Regions from separate parts of the Homo sapiens genome. Here all the other regions are linked to region 1. The links come from fine-mapping of genetic effects on gene expression. A gene starts in region 1. Each other region holds a variant in brackets. All regions are shown on one strand. Distances are between the middles of the regions. Region 1 holds the start of DENND10 (DENN domain containing 10). Region 2 holds the start of EIF3A (eukaryotic translation initiation factor 3 subunit A). Region 3 overlaps LINC03036 (long intergenic non-protein coding RNA 3036).

Region 1 (10,345 bases):
TAGCTAATTTTTGTATTTTTAGTAGAGATGGGGTTTTACCATGTTGGCCAGGCTGGTCTCGAACTCCTGACCTCAGGTGACCTGCCTGCCTTGGCCTCCCAAAGTGCTGGAATTACAGGCATGAGCCACCACCCCTAGCCTAAAAGTTTTATTTTTAAAAATCTGAGGGGAAAGGGATTTTAAGACATTTCACTGTAGGTAATAAATTCTGTCCTCTTTAATGTTTTTTGGAAAACGCAAAGAAAGATCAGAATTATTTTAATTACATTTTTCTTGCTGAACTATGTATTATTCTTTTTTTTAGAGACTGGTTTTTTTAGAGACTGGGTTTTGCTCTGTCACACAGGCTGGAGTGCAGTGGCTCAATTGTAGCTCATGGCAACCAGTGACTCTTGGACTCAAGTGATCCTCCCACCTCAGCCTCCTGAGTAGATAGGTTCAGGTGTGTATCTCCAAGCCCACCTAATTTTTAAATTTTTGTTCTAGAGACAGGGTCTTGCTATGTTGCCCAGGCTGCTCTTGAACTCCTGGGCTCGATGCTTTTGCCTCAGCTTCCCAAAATGCTGGGACTACAGGAATGAGCCTCGGTGCCCAGTCCATGAACTATTTCTTTTAATGCAACATAGTAGCCAGGTGTGATGGCTCACACCTGTAAGCCCAGCACTTTGGGAGGCTGAGGTGGGAGGATGTCTTAAGGCCAGGAGTTCAAAACCAGCCTGGGCAACATAGTGAGACTCCCATCTCTACAAAAATAAAATAAAAATAAAAATAAAAATTAGCCGGGCATCGTGGCTCATGCCTATAGTCCCAGCTACTCTGGAGGCTGATGCAGGAGGATTGCCTGAGCCTAGGAGTTCAAGGCCATACTGGGCAACATAAGGAGACCCCATCTCTACAAAAAGTTTTAAAAAATTGCTGGGCATGGTGGCACAAACCTATGGTCCCAGCTACTCGGGAGGCTGAGGTGGGAGAATTGCTTGAGCCTGGAAGGTCAAGTCTGCAGCAAGCTGTGATTGAACGACTGCACCCCAGCTTGGGTGACAGAGCAAGACCCTGTCTCAATAGATAAATGAATAAATAAATAGAAAGAAAGAAAGAAAAAAGAATAATGCAACACAGCTCGAAACCTGGGCTTCTTAGGGCCGGAGAGCTACCCAGCATCCTGAAACCATTGAGAACACAAGGAGGATGACTTCATCTTGGGAATGTTCTGGAAGCCTCACATATGCTAGAAGTCAGGACGGAGTGTCAGAGCAGTTGACTGAATCGCCTTCCAGTTCCCAAGTGAGACTGAATCCCTTAAATTAAAAGAGCTTGGCCAGGCGTGGTGGATCACACCTGTAATCCCAGCACTTTGGGAGGCCAAGGCGGATGGATCACTTGAGGCCAAGAGTTTCAGACTAGCCTGGCCAACATGGTGAAACCCCATCTCTACTAAAAATAAAAAAAAATTAACCAGGCTTGGTGGCACACACCTGTAGTCCCAGCTACTTGGGAGGCTGAGGCAGGAGAATTGCTTGAGCCTGGGAGGCGGAGGTTGCAGTTAGTGGAGATCACACCACTGCACTCCAGCCTGGGTGACAGAGCAAGACTCCGTCTCAGAAAAAAAAAAAGGCTGGGCACAGTAGCTCACACCTGTAATCCCAGCACTTTGGGAGGCTGAGGTGGGTGGATCACCTGAGGTCAGGAGTTCGAGACCAGTCTGACCAATATGGTGAAACCCTGTCTCTACTAAAAATACAAAAATTAGCCGGGTGTGGTGGCCTGCGCCTGTAGTCCCAGCTACTCAGGAGGCTGAGACAGGAGAATTGCTTGAACCCAGGAGGCGGAAGTTGCAGTGAGCTGAGATTGCATCACTGCATTGCGACAGAGCAAGACTCCATCAAAACAAACAAACAAACAAAACAACAACAACAAAAAAAAACTGCCACCCTAATGGCTCCCTTGGCTGACACATGCCCAATCTATGATGGAATCCAATTACAGAAACAAAGATGAAAAAGAACCATATTTGACTCATAGGAACCTGGGATTGGAACACCTGGAAGATGCTGGGGTCCCTTGTGCACTTGTCCATGTGGCCAGACAGTTTAGGCACTTTCCAAATCTGCTTCAGTGCCAGTAACTTACTCTTTTTCTGCAGAGCAAGGAGTGAGCAGGCTGTGCAAAAAAGAATTCACACGACAGGCCTGAGGGTGATATCCATAGAAAGTCTGCTGGCCAGTTTGGCCCTTGGCTGTGCCTGGAAACTTGGACTTCGGCAGTGTTCCCAGCATTTCTAGAACTGATCAAACTGATCAGAGTGACAGACTATGCCTGAACTATTTGTACATACAATGTGGTTCATGAGAGTCTGGAAATCTGGTATGAGCTAGGCAGAGGGTACCTATGTGACTGGCCCCCAGTAAAAACTGAGTTACTTGGTGACTGAGTTCTAACAAGCTTCCCTGGTTGATAAATATCACAAGTATTGCCACAACTTGTTGCTGGAGGAATTAGGTGTGTCCTGTGTGACTCTACCAGGAAATAACTCTTGGGAACTTGGCCCTGGTTTCCTCCAGACATCACCCCATGTGCCTTTTCCCTTTGCTGATTTTGCTTTGTATTCTCTGGCTGTAATAAATCATAGCCCTGAGCTGGGGATGGTGGTTCACATGTGTAACCCCAGCACTTTGGAGCCTGAGGTGGGCAGATCGCTTGAGGTCAGAAGCTTGAGATCAGCCTACACAATATGGTGAGATCACATCTCAAAAAAAAAAAAAAAAAAATAGCTAGGCATGGTGGTGCCTGCCTGTAGTCCCAGCTACTCAGGAGGATGAGGTGGGAGGATAGCTTGAGCCTGGATCAAAGCTGCAGTGAGCCGTGATCGTGCCACTGCACTCCAGCCTGGGTGACAGAGTGAGACCCTGTCTCAAAAAAATAAAAATGTATATCATAGCCATGAGTATAGCTATATGCTGAATCCTGAGAATCCTTCCAACAAATCATTGAATTTGGGGGGTGGTCTTGGGGACCCTTTATATTCTTACCTATAAAATTAGGCTATTCTTATCAATAAAACTAGCATAAAGATTTTCCCTGATTCAAATCTTTATTGGGAGAGTCACGGAGGAAAGTATGGTTAGCTCCATTTGATCACTGAGAAAACATGCACAGAAAAGATAGGAAACATGTGTGAGGTTTCGCAGCTAAGATGGGCAAGGGGGTTGGAACTCAGGTTGTCTGTTTCCACACCCCAGCTCCATCTGTCTGTGACAGCGCAGAGGTCAGTCTTACTTTTAAAGATTGGGGATGCGTCGCCTCTGCTCTCTCCACCCTCTATTCCTTTTCCCTTCACTCTGGTGTACCTGTCTGGCAGGTAAGACAGCACTTGTGGAGAAACAGGAGGGAAGGAGGTGTCAATTCCAGGTATCATCCCACTCACTGGAGCCTGGACACACCCCTCATTATCTTTCCCCTCCCTGCACCCACTATCATCTCCCTCTCCTTTGTTTAATTATCTGTTCATCATCGTCTTCATCCTCATTTCTTTTCTTTTTTTTTCTGAGATGGAGTCTCACTCTGTCGCCCAGGCTGGAATGCAGTGGCGCGATCTTGGCTCACTGCAACCGTCCTCTCTTGGGTTCAAGCCAGTCTGCCTCAGCTTCCTGAGTAGCTGGGATTACAGGCACCTGCCACCATGCCTAGCTAATTTTTGTGATTTTTTGTTTGTTTGTTTTTGAGATGGAGTCTCGCTCTGTCGCCCAGGCTGGAGTGCAGTGGCGTGATCTCGGCTCACTGCAAGCTCCGCCTCCCGGGTTCACGCCATTCTCCTGCCTCAGCCTCACAAGTAGCTGGGACTACAGGCACCTGCCACCACGCCCGGCTAATTTTTTGTATTTTTAGTAGAGACAGGGTTTCACCGTTTTAGCCGGGTTGGTCTCAATCTCCTGACCTCGTGATCCACCCACCTCAGCCTCCCAAAGTGCTAGGATTACAGGCGTGAGCCACCGTGCCCCACCTAGTGCAAGTTTCTAGTTGGCTTCCAAACTGATTCCACATCTGTGTCCCACTCCTCAGCCTCTAAACACCTGCTTCTTTTCTGTGAAAACTAGACACATTAACAGTTATACTACAACAGGAAGCCCAGAGAATAGAAGGGCACGTAGTTCAGGGTGCTGCCTTCCAGGGGTTCAGTTTAGTGAGAGAAACAGGAATGCCATATACACACCTAAATATACTCCAATGTATAAATTGCAGCCTGGGCAACATAGCGAGAAACTGTCTCCAAAAAAAAAAGAAAGAAAAAAGAAAAAAACAGGCGCAGTGGCTCACGCCTGTAATCCCAGCTACGCAGGAGGCTGAGGCAGGAGAATCCCTTAAAACCGAGAGGCGGAGGTTGCAGTGAGCCGAGATCGCGCTATTGCACTCCAGGCCGGGCAACTGAACAAGACTCCATCTCAAAAAAAAAAAAAAAAAAAGAAAAAAGAAAAAAAGATGAGGGTGGGATTGTATTCCTGCAGACACCAAGGACCCTCCCTAATTAGCTCTGTGTGACTTGGGGTTGGGGCAGACAGTAGATCCAGAGGAGGAATCTTGGAGCCAAATCTTCCAATGTCTGAGTCGTTACTATCATTCAGATCTCAGTTCAAATATCCCTTTCTCAGAGAAGCCTTTCTTGACACCCATTTTAGAGCAGCACACCTCCACTCTCTAACACACTGCCTCCAGGGCACATATCGTTGCCTCCAGGGCACATATCATTCTGAGCTTTTTTACTATTATCTATCTATCTGTCATCTATTTATCTATTTATTTATTTTTGAGACAGGGTCTCACTCTGTCACCCAGGCTGGAGTGAGTGGCAGGATCACAGCTCACTGCAGCCTCAAAATCCTGGGCTCAAATGATTTTCCTGCCTCAGCCTGAGAGTAGCTGGGACTACAGGTGCATGCCACTATGCCTGGCTAATTTTTAAATTTTTTTTGTAGAGATGGGTCTCACTATGTTGCCAAGGCTGATCTCGAACTCCTGACCTCAAGTGATGCTCCTGCCTTGGCCTCCCATCGTGTTGGGATCAGAGGCGTGAGCCACCTCACCTGGCCTGGATTATTTATTCTACTCGCCAATTGTCTGTCTTCCCCAGTGGACTGCTCTGTCTTGTTCAGCCCTATAAGGTATCCCCAGTGCCTTATTAGGCCCTCAATTTTTGTTTTGTTTTGTTTTGGGGGTGGCTGGATGAAGGAATGGATGGAGACCCTTCCTCCATCCTCAGGACGCCTCTTTTTAGGAACAAGGTGACCTGTTCTTTTGAGCTTGACCAGAGGGCAGAGGTAGAACAAGGAAAGCCTACGACGGGAAGAAAGATTGGAGTGGATTGAGAAGAAGAAGGATGAACAGCTGGATTAGAGAAATTGAGGCAGGCTGCGGAGACTCAAGGAGGTTTCCAAGGGCGAAGGGCCACGGGCAGAAGACGAGTGGAGCTGCACTGAGCAGGTCCTGGCAGGGAGGACTGGGGCTGGAATAGGTGGGCCTGCGGGTGGGGCGGGGCCGACGGGGGGGGTTGATGGTCCTGTGATGGGGCGGGGCGGGAGGGAGGCGGGTCCTACAGCGGGAGGCGGGGCCTGTGATGGTCCGGGGAGGGAGGCGGGGCTTATGATGGGCCGGGGAGGGAGGCGGGGCCTGTGATGGGGGCGGGCCCTACGGCGGGCGGGGCGGGGTTCGGGTGCGAGGCCGGTCCTGCAGGCGGCAGCCAGAGCTGCGCGCCGCGGCGGCGGAAGATGGCTGCGGCCGAGGTGGCGGACACTCAGCTGATGCTTGGAGTCGGGCTGATCGGTGAGGACGTAGGCGCCCTGCCTGGAAGCCCGCACCCTGGTTCTGCCTCTGCTCCACCTCGGCCCGGGGCAGCCCGGGCTCCCGCGGCCCCCGGCGCCGACCGCATGAGGAGGGCGCGGCCCCCTCCCTGTTGGGCCTGGACTGGGGACTGCGGAGCCCGGCCTCCTTGGTGCAGGGGACCCGGCCCGCCGCCCTCGCCCGCCCGCCCGCGGCCGCCTGTGGGGCCTGCCCGGCCCGAGGGAGCCCGGGGACCTCCAAGATTCCGGGGTGGAGCTCCCCCTGCACGCCCCGGGTTGCCCGGCGGAGCCGGGACGTCGAGCGCTCCCAGGCTGGGCAGCTGCGAGGGGCGCTGCGCGGGCGGGGCCGGGCCGGGCGGGAGCAGCCGGCTGGCGGCGCGGCGCGGCGCGGCGGGGAGGAGGCAGGGTCCGGTTCCCCCGAGCCGGGGGCGGGCGGCTGCCTCGGAGCCACGGGTGACTGCCCGCCCGGGCGGCCCCCATCGTGGGACCGGGCAGCTGGAGACTGCTGGGCCGGGTGCTGCGCGTTGTACACACATTGTCTCCTTTTAGCTCTCACCAAGGACCGAGGGGCCGTGGGAAACGTCTGACGCCCACTTCACGGAGGAGCAAATGGAGGCCCAGGCCGTCATTGTGCACGGACACACCATAGGCCGTACAGAGCCGGGAGTGGGACCCTCGCAGTGTATCCCAGAGCCCCCAACCCCCACCAGTGGAGAGCTCCTGCATCATGTGATCGAGCTTGTGCATAAATAAAGCAGGAGTTTCTACACAATCCTGTGTGGTGGAATCTCGGTTAGCTCTGAGGAATGTAATTATCTTCCATAATTAAAAAATATCACACGGGGATCTTTGGGCAGCCTCGTGCAGTATTTAGGGGATGGAACCCGTTGGTTCCCTTCGAAAAAGTTTTATTTTCCCGAGATTTTTGCACACCCCTAAACTCTTTCTATTCCCCAAGTGCGCAATAACATTGCTTAGGCTTTAGCAAAACTGAAGAAATATGCTGATTATTTTTCAGTGCCTCAAAGCAGTGCGTTTATGTGGGAATCGCTTACTGTTTTTATTTCTTTGTCTTTCTTCTTTTTTTTTTTTTTAGACGGGGTCTCCCTCTTATCCAGGCTGGAGTGCAGTAGCGCAATCATCGCTCTCTGCAGCCTCCACCTCCCAGGCCCAAACCATCCTCCCGCCTCGGCCTCCGAGTAGCTGGGACCTCAGGCGTGCACCACCACCCGATTAATTTTTGTATTTTTTGTGGAGATGGGATACCGACATGTTGTCCAGGTGGATTACTGTATTTATTTCTAATGTGATTTTCAAACTGCTTCAAAACAAAACCTAAGTAACTTAGTTTCTCCAGAAGGTACTTTTGAACTAAGGCTAAGTTAAACTGTCTTTATCTACTAATAGCAAATAAAAAGATGACATATGATCATATTTTGAACTCAGCAGTTTTTTAATTATTCACACTAACGTGCATTTAAAAGGGGTTTGCAGCCAGCCTGGGCAATGTGGTAAAACCCTCGTGTCTCTACAAAAAATACAAAAATTAGCCGGGTGTGGTGTGCCTGTAGGTGGGAGGATTGCTTGGTCCCAGGAGGCAGAGGTTGCAGTGAACTGAGATCATGCCACTGTACTCCAGCATGGGTGACAGAGTGAGACCCCCCCCAACCCCGTCTCAAAAAAAGAAATTGAAAAAAGAGGCCAGGCGTGGTGGCTCATGCCTGTAATCCTAGCACTTTGGGAGGCTGAGGCAGGTGGATCAATTGAGGCTGGGAGTTGATCAGCCTGGCCAATATAGCGAGACCCTGTCTTCACTAAAAAGGCAAAAAATTAACTGGGCGTGGTGGTGCACACCTGTAATCTCAGCTACTTAGGAGGCTGAGGCAGGAGAATCACTTGAACCCGGGAGGTGGAAGTTGCAGTGAGCTGAGATCAGAGGTGGAGGTTGCAGTGAGCTGAGATTGCGCCACCGCACTGCAGCCCAAGTGACAGAGTTAGACCCTGTCTCAGAGAGAGAAAAAAAAACAGAATGTGAGTGTCTTTTTTAGTATAATGATTTCTTTTCCTTTCGGCAGATACCCAGTAATGGGATTACTGGGTGGAATGGTAATTCTGTTTTCAATAACAATTTTTTATTTGTAGTCTTTAGAGACAGGGTCTCTCTCTGTTGACTAGGCTGGAATGCAGTGGTGCATAGCTCACGACAACCTCTGAATCTTGGGCTAACTTGATCCTCCCACCTTAGCTTCCTGAGTAGCTGGGACCATAGGCACACACCACCATGTCCAGCTAATTAAAATTTTTTTTTTGTAGAGATGCGGTCTCACTATGTGGCCCAGGTTGGTCTGGAACTTCTGGCCTCAGGCGATCCTCCTGGGTTCCCAAAGTGTTAGGATTATAGGCATGAGCCATTATGCTTGGCCTAAACAATTTTAAATACAAAATTCACACAGTTGGTATGCAACATGGTTTGAAATATTTCACTATTTTCTTCATCTCTGGTTTTGTTTTCGACAAACCTTTTCTATGTATTTATTAAAAATTATTCGGCTGGGCACGGTGGCTCACGCCTATAATCCCAGCACTTTGGGGGGCCGAGGCAGGCAGATCATCTGAGGTGGGGAGTTCGAGACCAGCCTGACCAATGTGGAGAAACCAAAACCCCATCTTTACTAAAAATACAAAATTAGCCAGGAGTGGTGGTGCATGCCTGTAACCCCAGCCACTCGGGAGGCTGAAGCAGGAGAATAGCTTGAATCTGGGAGATGGAGGTTGTGGTGAGCTGAGATCACTGCATTGCACTCCAGCCTGGGCAATAAGAGCAAAACTCCATTTAAAGAATTATTCCGCCCAGCACTTTGGGAGGCCGAGGCGGGCAGATCACCTGAGGTCAGGAGTTCAAGACCAGCCTGGCTAACATGGCGAAACCCTGTCTCTACTAAAACTACAAAAATTAGCTGGGCATGGTGGTGGGCACCTGTAATCCCAGCTACTTGGGAGGCCAAGGCAGAAGAATCGTTTGAACCTGGGAGCCAAGATAGCACCAGTACACTCTAGCCTGGGTGACGGTGAGACTCCGCCTCAAAAAAAAAAAAAAGAATTATTCCAACTAGTTAAAAACTTAATGTAATTTTAGTTGATAAGCATTTGTGTGGGAGGAGATAGGGAGAAACTCTAACATCTTTCTTTGTCTTTTTTTTTTTTTTTGAGACCAAGTTTTGCTCTGTTGCCCAGGCTAGAGTGCAGTGGCGTGATCTTGGCTGACTGCAACCTCTGCCTCCCGGGTTCAAGCAATTCTCTTGCCTTAGCCTCCTGAGTAGCTGGGATTACAGGCATGCCCCACCACACCCGGATAATTTTTGTATTATTAGTAGAGATGGGGTTTCTCCAGGTTGGTCAGGCTGGTCTCGAAGTCCCGACCTCAGGTAATCCACTCGCCTTGGCCTCCCAAAGTGATGGGATTACAAGCATGAGCCATCGTGCCCGGCCAAAACTCTACCATATCTCTAAGGCTGAATTTTCATTCATGGTTTGTTATAAAAACTTTTTACTCAGGTGGCCTGTAATTCAGGATCATGACAGCTAGATAATTTGAGCAGTAGAGATAGGTGGGAATTTGGGGTGTCAGGTATTGTGAGTTGCTTTGTAAGATGGGATGTTAAAACTGATTCCACTAAGTGTTTCTGAGTAACCAATCAATTCACTTCCTTGCTGCTGTTTGACATTCTCACAGTGACCATCTTTCCACCGTAGAAAAGGACACAAATGGAGAAGTTCTGTGGGTGTGGTGTTATCCTTCCACGACAGCCACATTAAGGAACCTGCTGCTGAGAAAATGCTGCCTTACAGATGAAAACAAACTTCTCCATCCCTTTGTCTTTGGTCAGTACAGAAGAACATGGTTTTATATCACAACAATTGAAGTTCCAGATTCTTCCATTTTGAAAAAGGTATGATTGCGTGAAGGTAAAAAAAAAACCCCAAAATAGGCTGGGCGCGGTGGCTCATGCCTGTAATCCCAGCACTTTGGGAGGCTGAGGTCGGCAGATCACAAGGTCAAGAGATTCAGACCATCCTGGCCAGCAAGGTGAAACCCCATCTCTACTAAAAACACAAAAATTAGCTGGGCGTGGTGGCGCACGCCTGTAGTCCCAGCTACTCAGGAGGCTGAGGCAGGAGAATCGCTTGAACCTGGGAGGCGGAGGTTGCGGTGAGCCAAGATTGTGCCACTGCACTCCAGCCTGGCGACAGAGCGAGACTCCGTCTCAAAAAAAAAAAAAAAAAGAAAAGAAAATATTAAATATTATTTTCATTGGGAATACTCTGTTTCACACTTCACTCTCATTCATTCTATAAATATTTATTGTTGTCTATTATATGACAGACCCTGTAGTTGATACAGTGGTGAGCAGTACAGCAATATGTGGTCTTTTCCCCTTTTTTTTTGTTTTTGTTTTTTTGAGATGGAGTTTTTCTGTTGGTCAGGCTGGAGTGCAATGGCGCAATCTCGGCTC
Region 2 (10,345 bases), 25 kb before region 1:
TTTTTTTCTGATAAACATCTACTTCAAAAGGAAATGAAGACCCATGTAAAAGAAAACACCAAGTTAACTATCAAAGCATTTATTAGAGGTCTAACCCACATACCTCTCAGGAGTTTGAATATTATCTAGATCCTCTATATCTAAGACCATCTGCTGAGATTCTTCTTTAGCAGCTTCAGTTTTTTCCTCTGCCATTTTCAAATATGCCCTAACAACATCCTCCAGAGATTTTATGTTCACCTAATCCAAAAAAACAAAAACTCTTCAGAACTTATTTTTCCATTGAACCATAAGATGTTTTAAAGGCAAATTTTTAAGAGAAATACAATATATTCACTTCGAAAGGTAAGTTCTTCGGCAGATTACTAAAAACACTTGTTAAAAATATACAACCCAGTTCCGTTTGTACCTGTTGACAAATGTTCTTATACTGGTATAACCCCTCCTTTGCCAAGTGGCTCTTGCGAAGATCCACGCAAAGTTCCAAGTATTTCAACATAATTGGTTCGTGTATCTTTTGCCATGTTCTATGTTTTTTACTTTTCATAACATCATAAAGAACATCCAGAGCAGGCTGCTTTTTGCCAACCTCAAGAAATTCTGAAAAATTCAGAAGAATTAAAATTAGTTATGTACACTATACAAGAGTCTAAACTTTACCTTTTTAAACAGCTATTTCAATTCCCCAACTCATTACCAACTTTTTACCAAGTTACATTTATTTTTGACTTCTAAAGCTATGCCATAATTATCAAAAGTAAAACAACAGAAAGACCTGTACTGTGTTGAAATATGATCTACAAGTAAAACTGAATCACTGTATTCCACTGTGATTTAAAAGTTCCAGGCCGGGCGCAGTGGCTCATGCCTGTAATCCTAGCAATTTGAGAGGCCGAGGTGGGCCAATCACTTGAGGTCTAGAGCTGGAGACCAGCCTGGCCAATACGGTGAAACCCATCCCTACCAAAAATACAAAAATTAGCCAGGCGTGGTGGTATGTGCCTGTAGTGCCAGCTACTGAGGAGGCTGAGGCAGGAGAATCACTTGAACCCAGGAGGCGGAGGTTGCAGTGAGCCGAGATCGCACCATTGCACTCCAGCCTGGGTGACAAGAGCGAAATTCCGTGTCTCAAAAAAAAAAAATAAAATAAATAATGTGTCGGTATTGGTTCATTAGTTGTTACCAATAAAAATCAACATGGGAGAAAGTGGGTGTGGTGTCAATGAAACTATGCACTCTCTTTGCAACACTCTGGAAATCTCAAACTGCTCTAAAAAATTCTTTTTTTTTTTAAATAAAAAAATAGAAAAATGGGGCCGGGAGCGGTGGCTTATGCCTGTAATCCCAACACTTTGGGAGGACGAGGAGGGCAGATCACTTGAGGTTGGGAGTTCAAGACCAGCCTAACCAAAATGGAGAAACCAAGTCTCTACTAAAAATACAAAATTAGCAGGGCGTAGTGGTGCATGCCTGCGGAGGCTGAGGCAGGGGAATTACATGAACCTGGGAGGCAGAGGTTGCGGTCAGCTGAGATGGCGCCACTGCACTCCGGCCCGGGCAACAAGAACGAAACTCCAACTCAAAAAAAAAAAAAAAAAAAAAAAGGGAAAAAAATGGAATACAAAGCAAAATAACTTATTTTTTTTCTTTTTTTTTTTTTTTGACATGGAATCTCGCTGTGTCGCCCAGGCTGGAGTACACTGGCGTCATCTCAGCTCACCGCAACCGATTCTCCTGCCTCAGCCTCCTGAGTAGCTGGGATTACAGGCACCCACCACAGGGCCCGGCTAATTTTTGTATGTTTAGTACAGACAGGGTATCACCATCTTGGCCAGGCTGGTCTCGAACTCCTGACCTCATGATCCACCCGCCTTGGCCTCCCAAAGTGCTGGGATTACAGGCATGGGTCACCATGCCCAGACAACTTATATTCTTTTGAATTTATTATCCCCTGAGCCCGAAGGCATTCTATGTGGTAACATTTCAAAACCCAGTTCCAATTTTAAGTTTTATGCATATTGTTTGTTTTGAAATACAGTCAAAAGCAATACCTTTGCCATTACATTATTTCTGACCAAGGTTAAAATTTATCTTAAATTTCCTCATCTTTTATTTTCTTTTGTACACTTAATAGACTGGGGGAGAAAGAGGTTATTTAACCTAAGTCAACTGGTTAAATTCATCTTAACATTCATTAATTGCAAATTTCACACACACACAAACTTCCCAATGAACATTTAAAAAATAATTTGGGGGAACTAAAACACTACACTAAAAAAAAAAAGGGGGGGAGCTTAAAACACTATATATATACATATATATATATATATCTCCTTTTTAAAAATATCATTGTTTATTTTCCTTGGAAAAAGACTTTTTTTTTTTTTTTTTTTTTGGACAGAGTCTTGCTCTGTCACTCAGGCTGGAGTGCAGTGGTGCAATCTCAGCTCACTGCAAGCTCCGCCTCCCGGGTTCACGTCATTCTCCTGCCTCAGCCTCCTGAGTCGCTGGGACTACGGAGCTCGCCACCACGCCTGGCTAATTTTTTTTTTTTTTTTTTTTGTATTTTTAGTAGAGGCGGGGTTTCACCGTGTTAGCCAGGATGGTCTCAATCTCCTGACCTCGTGATCTGCCCACCTCGGCCTCCCAAAGTGCTGGGGATACAGGCGTGAGCCACCGCACCCAGCCAATACTTTTTCTTTTAAGAGCTATCTGATAATGGCCGGGCGCAGTAGCTCACGCCATAATCACAGCACTTTGGGAGGCGGGTGGATCACGAGGTCAGGAGATCGAGACCATCCTGGCTAACACGGTGAAACCTCGTCTCTACTAAAAATACAAAAAATTAGCTGGGCCATGGTGATGCACGCCCGTAATCCTAGCTACTTGGGAGGCTGAGGCAAGACAATTACTTGAATTCAGGAGGCGGAGGTTGCGGTGAGCCGAGATAGCGCCACTGTACTCCAGCCTGGGCAACAAGTCTCCAAAAAAAAAAAAAAAAAGTTTGCTACAGGATAAATCACAAAACATACTGAAATAAATCTTTGTACAATACCTTATATGAAATCACATTTTTCACATGCAAATAATGACAAAACCCTTCACCACTGCATGAAAAAGTCCATCTTTCGCTGACTCCATCTTACTATCAAAAAAAAAACTTACTAAATGAAACAAAGATGTAATATATAACTAGATATTTTGTTGAAATAAGCCTTTCCTTGTTGTCAGGGGTGGGGGTGGGAGGGAAAAAACTTGCAGTCTTCTCCTGGTCTTCTCCTATATAGTGCATGTAAGGTTATTTTCTAAAATGTAACAGTACAGCCAGGCGCCTTGGCTCACACCTATAATCCTAGCCCTCTGGGAGGCCAAGGCATCACTTGCGGTCAGGAGTTCCAGATCAGCCTGGGCAACATGGTGAAACCTTGTCTCCACTAAAAACACAAAAATTAGCCAGGCATGGTGGTGCATGCCTGTAATCCCAAATACTCGGGAGGCTGAGACTTTAGAATCACTTGAACCCAGGAGGCGGAGGTTGCAGTGAGCCAAGATTGCGTCACTGCACTCCAGCCTGGGCAATAGAGGGAGAGACTCTGTCTCAAAAAAAAAAAAAAAAGAAAATGTAACAGTACATTAGGCGTTCTTCATAACTAACAAAAACAGTCTCTTATCAGCAAAAAACTTGGGAGTAAATGCGTTTAATGGAATTTATACTTTAAGAAAATCACAGCAGCAGCACTAAAATGACCTATTGTATCCAACTCCTAATCTAAAAAGGGCTTGCTTAAAGATGGAACTGAAACCATTTTTCACTTCCTGAACAGCCAATTAGAAGTTGATTCCTTAGCCAGGCGCGGTGGCTCACGCCTGTAATCCCAGCACTTTGGGAGGCTAAGGCGAGCAGATCACTTGAGGCCAAGGGTTCAAGATCAGCCTGGGAAATATGGTGAAAAAAATTAAAAAATTAGCTGGGCATGGTGGGACACACCTGTAATCCCAGCTACTTGGGAGGCTGAGGCAGGAGAATCGCTTGAGCCTGGGAGGCGGAGGTTGCAGTGGGCCGAGATAGTGCCACTGCACTCCAGCCTGGCCAACAGAGAGAGATTCTGTCTCAAATAAATAAATAAATAGTTGGAATGGGAACAGATTTTTCATAATCCATGACAGTGAGTCTTCTGCCTTTGTCCTAATTTATATACAAGAATTTAGTTCCTCCGAATTTTTTTTTTTTTTTGGAGAAGGAGTCTCGCTCTGTCACCCACGCTGGAGTGCAGTGGCGCAATCTCAGCTCACTGCAA[G/T]CTCCACCTCCTGGGTTCATGCCATTCTCCTGCCTCAGCTTCCTGAGTAGCTGGGACTACAGGTGCCCGCCACCACACCAGGCTAATATTTTTGTATTTTTACTAGAGACGGTTTCACTGTGTTAGTGAGGATGGTCTTGATCTCCTGACCTTGTGATCCACCCGCTTCGGCCTCCCAAAGTGCTGGGATTACAGGCATGAGCCACCACGCCCGGCCTCCTCTGAATTATTTAATAGTGGCCGGGGGAAGCTTTTGAGACTGGAAAGAACTATGATAAACTAAAGGTTCTATTTCAATACTTAAATATTGACTTCCAGATTAATATTATAGAAATAAAAATTAAAATCTAGAATTATAAACCTTACTGGATGGGTGAGCATTTGGAGCATACCTTTCAAATTCATTACTGAAAGTATGTATAAAGAAGTTTACATCAGCCCTTGATGTTTGCTAGTTTATTTGTGCAACAGACCAAATGGATATGCTATGTTACTCAATTTGTGGCCTTAATAGCTTTATTTTTCAAAGGCACTGGTTGTAGAACATAAACTATAATAAGGTCAGCAGCAGTTAGTGTGGCACCACTAATGATATAATATGAAAAAGGGGCCTTCTCCAAATGATTACAGGATACGAAATTCTTGCCTGTAACTGCTGGTCCAAGTTCTCACCTTCCTGAATGACTACTATAATTTTTCCCCCAAAAATTGCTCATATATATGCTTAGGGTGACCTGAACGACTATTCTACTTAAATTTATTTACATTTTATTAAGACAATGCAATAAATTAGGTCTAAATATTGTTAGGATCACAAATATTACATGTAAAACATTTAGATAAAATGAGATTATTTCCAATTAGGGGAATGCCCTTTGATCCTTCACTTATGTTTTGGAAGCAGTGCCCTGGACCATCCACGATCTGCTCACTTTGAGAAGGGATCCCTCACAATCCAAAGGTATGAGTTTCTACTCTGAAGGGAACGCATGCATCCCCATCCAACAGCTTCAAAGGGCTGCAAGGGACCACAGTCTTTTTTAAAAAGCTACACAAACAAAACTCAAGTTTCCCCCCCAGTGTCCCTCATCTTGCCTACTTTAATTTCAGATCCTTTCCTTAACCTGCCCTTCATGAATCAAGCCTGTGTCAATTTAGAAACAGGAAAAAAATGTTTGATGCACATTACATATCTTTTCTATATGAAGTTCTTATGAAGGTTCCAAAAAGAGAAGCGATAAAGGAAACAAGACCCGAACACACCAAATATATAATATGTAGGCCATTATAATGCTTTGGCCTACTAGCACGGGGAAAAAAAAATACCTGTTGGGCAAAGCATGCAAATGACTGTAAAACATCGACAACAGCCATGCAGAGTAGTAATTTCATGCAAATCATTTTGTATACTACAAATTCTAACTTTCGAAACGACGAAAAGTCATAAACTTTGCTACAGTTTGGTTTATAGTGACAAAGTTCCATTTCAATCTCTTCTTTCCGATGTATTAATAAACATCCTAAAACTGCTTGTCTGTTCTAACCATTAGATCACTGGTTATCATTAGAATGAATTAGTGCTCACATCTATGTTGTAGTTTCAATAGGTTTTTAAAACAATTACTCCATTCCACACAATGTGGAATTATCCTATTCCACAGACCAGTTCCCTCCCCGACAAAAAGTGTTACTTTTACTTTAAAAAGTATATGACCAACATATCTCTGGTTCTGCCAAATTATCAGTTTATGTGCTGACTCAAACTGCCATTTTCATAAGATGAATTTTCAAAGAAGCTAACAAAATAAGCTCTCCAAACATAAAACTGTAACTCACAAGGTATATTCATCTACAACATGGGTAAAACCCGAAACTTCTATTTCGGTGAAGGAAGGATGAAAATAAGAGCTATCCATGCCCTAACGATTAGAAAAATTGTCCGGTTAGAGGGGAAAAAAAAAACCCTACACAAAGTTTCTTAAGCCCAGAGCCTAGCCAAGAACATGTGCATCCCCAGAACGCCAATGTAATAAATGCCTTGGAGAGATCGGGGCACACAAGTTTTTCCCTCAAGCGCCAATGGCTGAAGTACACATATAGAAATAGAAATCGCAGACAGCAGCACTGTGGCAGAAAAAAAGAGAAAAAAGGACTGATCTGGATGTCAAGAGACGTTGGTTTTAAGTCTCTTGGCTCAACAACTCCCGGAGTGACCTTGGGGAAACCTCTCTCTAGGCCTGTTTCGTTATCTTTAAGAGGCGACCTGAAGTCCCTTTACATTAACTCTATTCCAACTTCCAGTGATTCGAAACAGGCTTTAGGACTGCTTCTAATCAATGCCAGGAAAAATGAAAAAACAAAAACAAAACAAAACAACAGGAATCAGGTTAAATGGGTCAGAGGCCCCTAAGTGGATATAAAGCAGCTGGGTAAAGGGTAAGTGGACGCCGACCCAGCAAAGCACTGAGCGCGGCTTGGAGAGCGGGGGTGGCTGCGGGAAGGCCGGGGGTGGGTCCGTAGGGCTCCCGGCCCGGGCAGGAGGTGGAGCCGAGGCTCTCGCGTGCATTGTCCCCGGGAGGGAGCCATGTTTCTTACTCCCCGGCACTCCCAGATGGCGGCCGGGGACGCGGGCCCTAAGCAGACCAAAGCCCCAGGGACCTGGAGAGCCAGAGGACGCAGGCAGCAAGGAGGGAGCTCCAGTCCGGGTAGGGGCTGTCTCCCGGGCTGCGGTCCCCGCGACGCACCCGGAGGCGGCAGGGGGAAGGAAAGGCCCCTGGGGCGACGGTTCCGGGCTACGCGCCTCCCAGACCCCAGTCGATAGAGTGAGAAGGAAACCCATGCCCAACCACCGGCTGGGACAGCGGCGGGCAGGCCGCATCGGTCTCCTCTCCCCGCGCGGGCCGGGCGGCGGAGCAGTGGGAAGCAGGCCCGCGCTCTCGACCTCGGAGGCCTCGGGCCGCCCCAGCCCGGCGCGCCCCGATCAGCTACTCACCGTTGGCGCGTTTGAGGGCATTTTCCGGCCTCTGAAAATAGGCCGGCATCTTGGCGGCAGGCTCAGCTCACCCGGCGTCAGCGAACTCTCTAGTGGCCCGGGCCGGGAGAGGAGACGAAGGGGAACCAGCGTAAGGTCCCACGCGCCTCGCCAGCAGTCGCCCGCGCCCAGCCGGCCAGAGACGGAAAGGAAGGAGCCACGTGACCTCCCCGCGGCGGCCCTGCTGCCGCCCAGGCCCCGGATGTAGGGGGCGGGTCTCCGTGCGCGCAAGCGCGCTGGCGTCACGCACGCCGACAGACGTGGCGGCGCCGGAGTCCTAGGCGCGCAAGGTCCAGTTCCCGTCTTGGGCCTGTCCTGGATAGCGTTAGGGAGACAGTTCACAGGCTCTTCAATCTTCGAGCGAGAATTAGGGTGGGAAGGGTGAGTGTGGGGTCAGAGTTTCTGTCTGGAGAACAAGCAAACGTCTGCAGATTGGTTTTCAAAGCGACTTGTGCGGAGTCGTGCAGTTACAGTAAGGTCCCATCCAGCCTGGGAATCGCCTGTCTTGGCTACGTGAAAATGCTGAGTTTAACGAAAACGCAGTGAGCAGGTGTCATCAGGTCAGCGCCGCTCAACCGTGAGAGACAATCATGGGGAAGAGTGACGCCTAAAATAAACAAGCAAGGTTCTTTTATATCTTGGTAAAGTAAAAAGTTTGTGTCACAGGGATTGCCTTGAGAAATGGAGGCTCTCAGAGGGGGCGAATGGGGACAGCGACCTGGCAAAGGGCGAAACGCCCTGGAGCACAGCAGACTTGCTTGGTGTTTGAAAACACACGGAAAGGAGTGTCGTCACTTTTTACATACAGCGCACGTCACAAACAAATTAAGAAAAATTAGTGTTAGTGAAAAAAATCAATCTGAGAGGCCCTTTTATTGTTGCTTAACAATTTTAATGTTCGCAGACGAAGTACTTTACCTAGAATTTGAAAACCATTTGAACCGAATCTAATTCTCAAGCCCTTGGTACGAAATAAAGGTGAGCTCAGAAGGAAAAAAATTTTTTTTTTTTTTGAAACGGAGTCTCGCTTTGTCGCCCAGGCTGGAGTGCAGTGGCACGATCTCGGCTCACTGCAAGCTCCGCCTTCTGGATTCACGCCATTCTCCTGCCTCAGCCTCCCGAGTAGCTGGGACTACAGGCGCCCGCCACTGCGCCCAGCTAATGTTTTGTATTTTTAGTAGAGACGGGGTTTCGCCGTGGTCTCGATCTCCTGACCTCGTGATCCGCCCTCCTCGGCCTCCCAAAGTGCTGGGATTACAGGCGTGAGCCACCGCGCCCAGCCCAGAAGGAAAATTTAGAAGGCAGCAGTGAAATAGATTATTGTCAATGTATTACACATTTAATAGACGAGATATGTGAATTAATGAATGAGGAAATCGGCCGGGCATGGTGGGTCGCGCCTGTAATCCCAGCACTTTGGGTGGCTGGGGCGGGTGGATCACCTGAGGTCAGGAGTTCGAGACCAGCTTGGCCAACATGGCGAAACCCCGTCTCTACTAAAAATACAAAACTTAGGCCTGGCGTGGTGGCTCACGCCTGTAATCCAGGCGCTTTGGGAGGCCGAGGCGGGCGGATCACGAGGTCAGGAGTTCGAGACCAGCCTGACCAAAGTGGTGAAACCCCCCCCCCCGTCTCTACTAAAGTTACAAAAAATTAGCTGGACGTGGTGGCGAACGCCTGTAATCCCAGCTACTCGGGAGGCTGAGACAGGAGAATCGCTTGAACCCGGGAGGCAGAGGTTGCAGTGAGCCTAGATCGTGCCACTGCGCTCCAGCCTGGGTGACAGGGCGAGACTCCGTCTCAAAAAAAAAAAAAATTAGCCGGGCGCTGTGGTGGGCGCCTGTAATCCCAGCTACTCGGGAGGCTGAGACAGGAGAATCGCTTGAACCCGGGAGGCAAAAGTTGCAGTGAGCCAAGATCAGGCCACTGCACTCCAGCCTGGGCGACAGAGGGAGACTCCGTCTCAAAAAAAGAAAAAAAAAAAAAAAGAATGAGAAAACCACAGGATATACACACAAAAAGCATTTCCCCCTCATTACTTCTGCCTCCACAAAGATGGTTTTGTTTTGTTTTTTTATTTTTCAACATGAACTGTTCTACTACAGGAGAGGTTTTTCTATTTATCTAAATTGATCACTATAAAGAAAGAAGATTTGGGAAGTATAGACATGGACCCAAAAAATCACAAATTCTAAAGAAGTTTATTTTAAAATTAATTTCAGAGAGCTCATCCTCCAGAACGCTTAGACCATTCTATGTGTCTGAGCTTACTCAACAAAAAAATAAGAGCTGGGCAGGGTTGATATAAAAACAAGTACTGAGAAGCTATAGGAACTGTTTTATGGGCAGGATCAAGAGACTTGTTTGTGTATCTAATAATTAAGTCAAAATTAAAGAGTGAAACATATGAGCACATACTTCTTTTACGAGATGTAGACAGAGAACTATTTAGAGATGCAAACAAAATAAAGTTGACCTAAAAAATCAGAAAAAAAGCTTGCTGACATTCATAACTTTACGTTATCATTTCTCAAAGAAAATAGTAAAATGGGCCGGCATGATGGCTCACGCCTGTAATCCAACACTTTGGGAAGCCGAGGCGGGCGAATCACAAAGTCAGGAGTTCGAGACCAGCTTGGCCAACATGGTGAAACTAAAAATACAAAAATTAGCTGGGCATGGTGGCACGTGCCCATAATCCCAGCTCCTTGGGAGGCCAAGGCAGGAGAATCACTTGAACCCTGGAGGTGGAGGTTGCATGAGCCAAGATTGTGCCACTGCACTCCAGCCTGGGCAACAGAGCGAGACTCCATCTCAAAAAAAAAAAAATAGTAAAATGGCCTCATTCGTTATTACTCATTATTTGGTATGCCTACAACAACACAAACACTAGAAACTTGGGAGATAGGTGGGGCGCAGTGGCTCACGCCTGTAACCCCAGCACTTTGGGAGGCCAAGGCAGGCGGATCACAAGGTCAGGAGTTTGAGACCAGCCTGGCCAATATGGTGAAACCCT
Region 3 (10,345 bases), 81 kb before region 1:
TTTTCTAGTTTTCCAAGAGTCTTAATCATAACTGTATGTTGAATTATATCAAATGTGTTTTCTGTATCTACCAAGGTAATCATATTTTTCTTTAATATATGAATGTGGTGAATTACATTGACTTTTTTTTTTTTTTTTTTTTCAAGACAGAGTCTCGCTCTGTCACCCAGGCTTGAGTGCAATGGCATGATCTCGGGTCACTGTAACCTCCCTCTCCCAGGTTCAAGTGATTCTTGTACCAAGCAGCGGAGACTATGGGACTACAGACCTGCACCACCACATCTGGCTAATTTTTGTATTTTTAGTAGAGACGGGGTTTCATTATGTTGCCCAGGATGGTCTTGAACTCCTGAGCTCAAGTGATCCACCCACCTCAGCCTCCCAAAGTGCTGGGATTGCAGGCATGAGCCACTGAGTTTGGCCTCACATTAATTGACTTCTAATGTTAAACCAAGATTCCATTCCAGAGGTAAATTCATCTTAGACCTGATTAATTAAATATTTTTCATTACTAATTTGGTTTAATATTGTGTTTCAGATTTTTACACATATGTTCATGAGTGAGTTTGGTTTGTAATTTTCTTTTCTTATACTTCTTGTGCTTTATACTAGCCTCATAAAATGAATTAGAAAATGATCTTTTTCCTATAAAAGTTTGGTGTAGAATTGGAATTATTTGGTTTTTTAGTAGCAGAATTTATCTTCAAAGTCATCTGGATCTAGTGTTTTCTTTGTGAGGAAATTTTTAACTCTGATTAAATTTATTAACTGGTTACAGGATTACTGAGGTTTTTAAATTACTGAGTTTTACTTTTCTAGCAGATTGCCCATTTCATATATATTTTTAACTTTTTTTTTCTTTTTTCTGAGACAGAGTCTCACTCTGTCACCCAAGCTGGAGTGCAGTGGTGCAATCTCAGCTCACTGCAACCTCCGCCTCCCAGGTTCAAATAAGTCTCCTATCTCAGCCTCCCGAGTAGCTGGGATTACAGGCGCCCACAACCACACCCGGCTAATTTCTGTATTTTTAGTAGAGATGGCACTTTGCCATGTTGGCCAGGCTGGTCTCGAACTCCTGGCCTCAAGTGATCCACCTGCCTCGGCCTCCCAAAGTGCTGGGATTACAGGCATGAGCCACTGCGCTCAGCCACATCTTAAAATTGAGGAAGTATCTATAGTCATGGAATTGTTTGTCATGCCTTTTATTCTTAATAAATCTTGCTAAATATTTGTTAATGTTATTAGTCTTTTATAAGAATCAACTTTTTTAGGCTGGGCACAGTGGTTCATGCCTGTAATCTCCGCACTTTGGGAGGCCGAGGCAGGTGGATGACTTGAGACCAGCCTGGGCAACATGGTGAGACCTTGCCTCTACAAAAAAAAAAAAAAAAGAAGAAGAAGAAGAAAAAAATCAACTTTTTGGCTTTGTCAATCATTTATCATATCTTTTCTTTTCTATTTCACTAATTCCTTCACTTCTCTGTATTGTATCCTTTTCTAGTTTCTTCCATTGTTGATTTCTAATGAAATGGACTTGTGACCAGAGAATCCTATGTGACACCAATCCTGTGAAATTTGTTAATACCTGGTTGATGGCACAGAATCCCATCAACTTTCTTTTTTAAGAGATGGGGGTCTCACTAGGTTGCACAAGCTGGTCTCAGACTCCTGGGATCTGGTGATCCTCCCACATAGCTAGTATTTCAGGCATGCACCACCACACCTGGCCCCAGTCAACTTTTATGAATGCTCTGAGTGCTTGAAAAGAATGTAAATTCTGCAGTTATTCAAGGCAGTGTTTGTATATTTATATGTATATATAATTATATACATATCATTATTCAATATTACTAAATATATTCTATATCCTTAATAATATTGTCTATTTTACCTACGAGAGAGTTGTCACATCTCCCACTAATGTAGATTTGTCTATTTCTCCTATTTCTCCTTGCAATTCTATCAGTTTTTTTATTTATACTTTGAAGTTAAATTATTAAGTATATATTACCTTGGAACTGTTATAGCCTCCTGGTAAACTGAACCTTTCACATTACATAGCCATAGGTCCATTTTGTTGGCTGTTGGCACAGCAACATCAGCTGTTCCTTGGTGGTGTCTCCTCCCATGACTTCTTGCATCCTTTCACCTTTCACCTTTCTGTATCCTTATGTTTCATTAGAGTTTCTTATGGAGGACATATAGCAGATTTTTAAATCCAGTCTGAAATCTTTGTGTTTTAATAAAAACATTTAGTCCATTTACATTTATTACAGTAATTATATGTTTGGACGTACTTCAACCATCTTATTGTGTACTTCCAATTTGTTCTACCATTTATGTGATTATTTTTCCCTCTGTCATGCTTTCTTTTGTAATTATTATCCTTTCCTCATTCCATTTCTTTACATCTATTATTTTGAAAGCTATAATCCCAGCACTTTGGGATGCCAAGGAGGGTGGATCACTTGAGCCCCCGAGTTGAAGACCAGCCTGGGTAACATGGTGAAACCCTGTCTCTACAGAACACACAAAAATTAGCCGGGCATGGTGTTGTGCACCTCTAGTCCCAGCTACTTGGGAAGCTGAGGTGGGAGAATCACCTGAGCTGGGAAGGTTGAGATTGCAGTGAGTTGTGATCATGCCACTGCACTCCAGCCTGGGTGACAGAGCAAGACCCTGTCTAAAAAAAAAAAGAAAAGAAAGAAAGTTATACCCTCTATTTCCTTTCTCTTTTTTTCCAAATTGGTTCCCTAAAAATGTTAACTTACATGCTTAACCTCTCAAAATCTAAATTTAATTAATATTGATAGTCAAGATTTTCTCCAAAATAATCCATAGTATAGGAGATAGGGAAAAAAAAAAACAGGTGTGGAGATAGTTAAAAATAAGAGTAGCCAGTTATTAAGGGTAAACTGGGTTAAGATTCATTATGCTGGCCGGGTGTGGTGGCTCACGCCTGTAATCCCAGTACTTTGGGAGGCCAAGGTGGGCAGATCACAAGGTCAGGAGATCGAGACCATCCTGGCTAACACGGTGAAACCCCGTCTCTACTAAAAATACAAAAAATTAGCCGGGCGCGGTGGCAGGCGCCTGTAGTCCCAGCTACTCGGCAGGCTGAGGCAGGAGAATGGCGTGAACCCGGGAGGCGGAGCTTGCAGTGAGCCGAGATTGCGCCACTGCACTCCAGCCTGGGCGACAAAGCAAGACTCTGTCTCCAAAAAAAAAAAAAAAAAAAAAAGATGCATTATGCTATGATCTTTACTTCTGTAATTCTTGAAATTTCCCATAGGTTATAAAATATTAAAGTTAGTATCTTTCCCCTCTCCTTGAACAATATAAGGGTTTTGGAGCACTTCACTCCAGTCTCTCACTCCTGATGCTTGTTCTATTATTGCTGGGTATTTTTGTTGCACTTGGCTCTTTTTTTGTTTTAATGACAAATTAAATAACATCATTATTATTAGTTTGGTGCAAAAGTAATTGTGGTTTTTGCCATTAAAGAGTTAAAACCGCAATTACTTTTGCACCAACCTAATATTTTAAGTATGTTGAGTCTCCCACACAAGTATGCCTTTCTTTGCTCACTAATCCTCTTTGCAACTCAGACCCTTCCTCTGCAATCACTTTCCATCTGCCTGAGGGACACACACACACACACACACACACACTTTGTGTAGTGCTCCCTCACCTCACAGCTTCCCCTGTACTGTGTCAGGTCCCAACTGACAGAGGAAACCTGACCTCCCCAGCCCAGCTGCACTCTGGCTATGCCAAGGTCTTGGGAGTCATGACACACCCGTGTGTGGGTGGGGTGCTGTTGCCAGGGAGTTCACAGCCCTCTGCACTTTCCCCGTGGTAAGCTGAATAATGACCCCAAAAGGCATATTAATTCCTACAACCTGTGGATCTGTTACCTGACATGGCCAAGGAGAACTGAGGTTCCAGGTGGAATTAAGGTTGCTAATTAAATGATGTTAGAATAGGGGCCTGGCGCAGTGGCTCACACATGTAATCCCAGCACTTTGGGAGGCCGAGGCAGGTGGATCACTTGAGGCCAGGAGTTTGAGACCAGCCTGGCCAACATGGCAAAACCCTGTCTCTACTAAAAATACAAAAATTAGCTGGGCATGGTGGCACGCACCTGTAATTCCAGCTACTCGGAAGGCTGAGGCAAGAGAATCGCTTGAATATGGGAGGCAGAGGTTGCAGTGAGCCGACATTGCACCACTGCACTCCAGCCTGGGTGATGGAGCGAGACTCTGTCTCAAAAACAAACAAAAAAAGATGTTAGAATTGGGAGATCATTCTGCACATTCTGCATTATCCCAGTGAACCCAGTGGGACCACCAGGGTCCTGGAAGGTGGAGGAGGGAGACAGAAGAAAGAACAAAGAGGTGCCACGTGGAAAGGACTCAGCTACCTGCTATCCCTGGGTTTTGAGAAGGGAAAGGCCACGAACCACAGGAATGGCAGGCAGCCTCCAGACGCTGGGAAAGGTAAGGAAACAGGTTCCCCGCCAAGAGCCTCCAGAGGGAATTCAGCCCAGTGAGACCCACTGTGGACTTCTGACATCTAGAGCGCTGAGAAAATCAGTGTGTTGTTTTCAGCCACTATATGGGTGGTAATTTGTTACAACCGCAACAGGAAGCGAACCTGCCCCCACCAAGTGTCATCGCCTGTTTACTTGTCTGTCTGCCCAATTCGAGTGTAAGCTCCATGAGGTCAGAAGTACGTCAGTCTTATTTGCCACTTATCCCCAGACCTTGATGGTAAATAAATGAATTTTAGAGATGGAAAGGGCCAAGAAATCACTTAGGCCAGCCCAATTATTTTAAACTGAAATTTAAAACTAAGATCCAGAGACAGGAACTGATTTTGCTCGAGGCTACTCAATTTATACAGAGCTTGGATCCTCCATCCGCTCCCTGGGGCCCACCTGCCTTCTGGTCACTAAGCCGTAGAAGCCTGAAGACAGACACAACTGTGGAGAGGCAGCT[C/G]CGAGCACACAAAATCCCTGGAGAACTCAGGACGGCTGGGAGAGGATCAGTGCAAATCAGATAAGACCAGAAGAAGATGGCTAAAATGACTTGAGCAATCTTTAAAATGTTAGTCCCGGCCCAGCGAGGTGGCTCACGCCTGTAATCCCAGCACTTTGGGAGGGTGAGGCGGGCGGACTGCTTGAGCCCAGGAGTTCTAGACCAACCTGAGCAACATGGCAAAACCCCATCTCTACTAAAAATATGAAAATTAGCCAGGCGTGGTGGTGCATGCCTGTAGTCCCAGCTACTCAGGAGGCTGAGACAGAAGAATCGCTTGAACCCAGGAGGCAGAGGTTGCAGTGAGCCAAGCTCGTGCCACTGCATTCCAGCCTGGGCGACAGAGCAAGACTGTCTCAAAAATAAAGTTAAATGTTAGTCCCAAGGGGCAGCTGATCCACCAGTAACAACCAGGGCAGAACTGTGCCCAGCACCTGATCAGCTGAATTCAGGAGACTCTCCACCTGAAGCTTCAGAATGGGGAAACAAGAAAAGGGGTACTAATGTCAAACTTGAGGCCCGCCTTCAAGAAGCTCAGCATTTCACACCTCGGCCAGAGCCAAAGCTTTGGGCTTTGAGCAAATTAGGAAAAGACACTTCTTCCACAAGGTATCTTTTTCCATCTGTCAGTGAAGTGTCATAATATACTGATTTCGTTAGAAGATACTTTACTCAAGGTCGGCCAGAAAATGATCACAGAGTTACTATGTCTATGAAGTAAAGGTGCCCCCTTAGATGGGAAGCGGTTGTGCAGTACACAACCTGCAGAACTGTACACAACCTGCAGAACCACACATAGCATTCTTTGCTTGGCAGTCTGGTCCCATCCTTTCCACAGCCCTCATATCCCCGCTTCCCCTCCCTCTGCCTAGAGCCCTCAGACCTGTTGGAGAACAGTCTCAATCTACAGGTTACCATTTTACATGTAACTCCTTCCTGTCAGCTTTTTACTTCCCTCCCCCTGCAGACAGCAGGGATTGACGACGGGTGAGAGAAGGCTGATGGCCCCATTTAGGGAAGCACAGGAGGAGGTGGGGAGGCCGGATGTAGTGAATTCCAAATGAATGAGTATCCACGGGCCAGGGGATGATCAAGGAGGTGTGAGGGTTAACAGTGCGGGCCTTGAAGAAATGCCACCTACCAGCTAGCTGTGAGCTGCTGGGCATGCTTTTAGCCTCCCAAAACCTCATTTTCCCTTTTGTGAAATGCTTATCATTGTAGGCCTGCTGGGAGGATTTCAGAAATGATATGAGTGAATGCTTAGTGCACGGTAAGGGCTCAGCACCTGTGAGCTACTGTTATTGCTATTATCAGCATCATCAGCCCAGGGACATCTGCCCTTCCGCCTGTCAGCCTCCAGGCAGCTCCTGCTTTAAACAAAATTGGGACACTCCAGATTTCTAAAAGAAAACCACATGGCAGGGAGGAGGGCAAGTGCTGGAGGGAGAAAGGATTACTCACTTTACCAAAGTACCCACTACTGGATAAACAGAAACACCCAGACTGCTTTTAAATGGGGTTGGTTTTGTTCAGGGGACATTGCTGACACGGACTGGAATGTGTCCTCTCCTGCCCCTGCCGCTGTGTGTTGCTGGCCAGTCTCCCGCACATCTGGACCCCAGAAGTCCCAAGAATGACCGGGTGCATCCAAGGAGGCACAAACCCAGGTTCGGGGAGTGAGAGAAAAATGGGTGCAAATCTCAGTCCTGCTGCTCCTGAGCTTCTCAGCCTTGGGCTCCATGCTGAGCTTTGCCCCCGTCTCCAACAGGTCACCAGCGCACCTGCCTTGCGGGGCAGGGTTGGGGGTGGGGGGCACATGGAATAGTGCATGTCAAGCACCTGGTGCTGATGGTGGTGGTATTATTACCAGCTGGGAGACTTTAGCCCAAGGCAGGGGGTGTGAGATGACACCACGGCACCCGTTTCCCATTCTCCGCATCCCCTTCCAGCCTTGTCCACACACAGAGAATTCTGACATGGTCGTCACCTCCACCTGGCCAGAATATGGTAGCCTACCTTTTCGACAGAATAACCAAATGTATTTTTTTTCACAGTATTACATGTTTCATTTAGAACAAGGGTGTCCAATGTTTTGGCTTCCCTGGACCGCAATGGAAGAACTGTCTTGGACCACACATAAAACACACTAATGACAGCTGAAGGGCTTAATTAAAAAAGGTCTGTGCATAATCTCATAATGTTTTAAGAAAGTTTACAAATTTGTATTGGGCCGCATTCAAAGCTGTCCTGGGCCACATGAGGCCACCTGGCCACAGGTTGGACAAGCTTGATTAAGAATGAAGTCAACTGCACGTATAAAAGGATACCTGGACGTGGTGTGGTGGCTCACGTCTGTAATCCCAGCACTTTGGGAGGCCAAGGCAGGTGGATCACCTGAGGTCAGGAGTTCAAGACCAGCCTGGCTAACATGGTGAAACCCTGTCTCTACTAAAAATACAAAAATTAGCTGGGCATCGTGGTGCATGCCTGTAATCCCAGCCACTCGGGAGGCTGGGGCACCAGAATCGCTTGAACCTGGGAGGTGGAGGTTGCAGTGAGCCGAGATCATGCCACTGCACTCCAGCCTGGGTGACAGAGTGAGACACTGTTTCAAATAAATAAATAAATAAAAGGATACCTGACTTGAAGTGGCTGAAATAATAGAGATGTTATAATTATCTCGTGTAACAAGTCACCAAGTCATCAACAAAAATATCACTAAGGTTTGTTTTTTGTTTTAACTTTTCTGGTAAGCCATCACCTTGCGCCAGCTTTGTGTCCTTAAGCCTTATCACCTCAGCTCTATAGCCTGAGCTGAAGAAGGTGAGGGCCCTGGTTCTTTATTTCTTCCCCCTTTTTATATAAGGAAGCAAACCCCTTCCCAGTATCCTCCCAGCAGACAGCAGATGTCCGCTGAGATCTCCAGGGTGAGAATGGGTCACCAGCCCTCCCCTTACCCAGTGGTGACTAGGGGAAATGGGATGTTTCTGCTTAAACCTGTCACAGTTATGCCCCGAGGCTGAGGGAAGGAATCAGAACAAAGTTAAGTCTGCAAGGAGGGGGAGTGGCTGCCATTTTACTCGACAAGAGCCCTTCACTGACCAAAAGCAGCATCTGGGGCCCAGAGAGGTTAAGCCCCTTGTCCACTACACGTGACTTTGCACCAGCGCCAGGGTGCAAACCCTGTCCCGAGGCCCAGTAAGCTCTCCCCACTTCACCATATGGCTTCTCCACAACAGCAGACCCTAAGCCCAAGCCCCCCAAAGGGCAGGAGCCCCATCCCAGGACTCTCTGAGCTTGACAGAGCCATGATGTGGACAAAGTCAGCCAGGAGAGGGCTCCTCGTGCCCAAATGCACCTCACCCACCTCCAGGCCCATGGCTGACGGAGCCAAAGCACCTCCTGTCCCTGGCAAAGTCCTGGCAGGGGGTCAGCGGGAACCCAGAACCTGACAAACAGCATCGCTATAGCCGCCTGGACCCCGGCCAAGCTGCCTCATTCCCCAGGGCTGACCTCATGTTTCTGAAGAGCCTCAGGAGCCTGAGGTCTGTGAGCTGCCTCACAGGGTTCAGTTCTGCTGCCAGCAAAGGAAATGGCCCGGGCTGGGGGCCATGTGGAGAGGTGGGAGCACAGAACCCAGGCACCCTCCCCACCACCCACCCCTGCCCTGCCAGAGCCCTCAGCCTGTGCCAGGCAGGCCCCACTGCCCCACTCCAGAAGAAACCAAGCAGCACCCTCTAACTTCTGAGGTGTAGCCCATGCCCACCTGTCTTCTCACCTCTGCCGGATACCTGAAGAAACGTTCACAGACTGGCTGTTTCCATCTGTTTCATTCCAGACTCCTGGAAAGTGAGCAAAAGGCAGTGAGACTTCATCAGAGGTGCTAAGAACATCTCTGAAATCGTGCCAACACCTCAAAGAGCTAGAGAGCTCACAGCCAGGCTGAGGCCTGTTGCTGGGTGACAAAAGTCACTGTTTATTTAACCCAGAGCTGGGCCAGGTGCCCACACTGGCCTTTCTATGGTCACTGAGAGCAAAGGCTCCCAGGGTACTGAGGCCCAGCGTGTGCTCCACGACAAAAGCCTTCATGCACTTGGCCTCCACTTCCCGACTTCCCTTCTGGGTCAAATGTCTACTCACCTCGTATAGCAGTCAAGGGGAGCAGCCTGGGGAAACAGCCCATGGCGGACCCCAAGACACACTCATTTCTCCACCTCCTTCTGGGGCATCTCCATCCCAGCTCCACTTCCCACATACCCAGGCTGCAGGTCCCAGCCAAGGTGTTTGTTCCTATTCTTATCCCTTAAAAGTTTTTATTCTCCCCGTACAACCACAAGGGCCGAAAACCATGTTGGGAGGCAAGAAGGCTTCCGCTTCTGTGCCATCGCCTCTCTGGCCTGACCAAGGGGGATCAGACACAGCAGCTGGCAATTTTAAACTTTTCCTGCCAAAGTTATTCTCAGAACTGTGGCTCCCCATCTTCAGAGCTTGAAAAGTCTGCATGTCTTGAAAGGATGCAGGCTGCAGGGCTGTGTGAACCGAGCGGAATTTTCCATTCATAGAATAATCATCTTCATACCACTCTGGGGGGCTGGCGTTCTCGTGGTAAAAGCTCCGAGTTCAGGGTCAGCAAACCTGCCAGGCGTCTGCAGGAGCCCTGCGGCATGGAGGTTCTTTTATTTATTTTTGGTGGAGAAGGGGAGGAAATAAAGGAATGACTTTCTACCTTGCATGCCAACACAAACTTGGAAAAGGATCTGGGTTGGCAAGTGCTGAATATTACTGCCTGGTTTCATGACTTACATCAACCATCGGGGGCTAGAAGGAAGAGGCCGAAACATGGATCTTTAACCCCTAACCCAGAGAGGCGGCCAGAACAGGCCTCACTTCACTGCTTCAGGTCCTTTCCCGCGCCTGCCAGCCAGAGCCCTGGATTGCTCTTTGAGGGCAGGGGCCCCAGCCAAGGCCATATCGCCTCACCTCACCTCACTTCTTTCCAGCTTCCCCTGTGTTGTGCCTTAGAGTTCTGCGGATGCATGCACAGACTTATTGTCTGAGATACCTTGCTGGTCCAGGGTGTAGTGAGAAGGCCACCCGGCCGGGAGTAACAGGACCAGAGTCTTAGTTCTGTCACATAGTCACTGTAGCCTTAAAGAAGTCCTGCTTGGCTGGGTGCGGTGGCTCACACCTATAATCCCAGCATTTTGGGAGGCCAAGGTAGGCAAATCACCTGAGGTCAGGAGTTTGAGACCAGCCAATACGGTGAAACCCCATCACTATTAAAAATACAAAAATTAGGTAGGCAT

Evidence for each region.
Region 2: its variant is fine-mapped to the expression of DENND10 in whole blood (INTERVAL, PIP above 0.99).
Region 3: its variant is fine-mapped to the expression of DENND10 in whole blood (TOPMed, PIP above 0.99).

Annotation. Positions count from the first base shown.
Region 1 is chr10:119,098,384-119,108,728 of GRCh38, forward strand. DENND10 (DENN domain containing 10) reads left to right here and starts at 5,730. Exons shown (of 9, transcript NM_207009.4): 1 at 5,730-5,814; 2 at 9,585-9,781. The coding sequence starts at 5,760. RefSeq lists a silencer at 5,519-6,298 and an enhancer at 7,440-7,939.
Region 2 is chr10:119,073,338-119,083,682 of GRCh38, forward strand. EIF3A (eukaryotic translation initiation factor 3 subunit A) reads right to left here and starts at 7,480. Exons shown (of 22, transcript NM_003750.4): 1 at 7,291-7,480; 2 at 410-600; 3 at 104-240. The coding sequence starts at 7,339. RefSeq lists a silencer at 6,945-7,204 and enhancers at 7,210-7,972, 7,400-7,694. The variant G/T (reference allele first, on the strand shown) is at 4,299.
Region 3 is chr10:119,016,980-119,027,324 of GRCh38, forward strand. It overlaps LINC03036 (long intergenic non-protein coding RNA 3036), which reads right to left. Exons shown (of 4, transcript NR_186540.1): 2 at 8,818-8,881. Among named protein-coding and RNA genes, the nearest start is that of LINC03036, 7.4 kb to the right of the region's middle. RefSeq lists enhancers at 5,328-5,970, 5,971-6,613, 7,799-8,372. The variant C/G (reference allele first, on the strand shown) is at 5,001.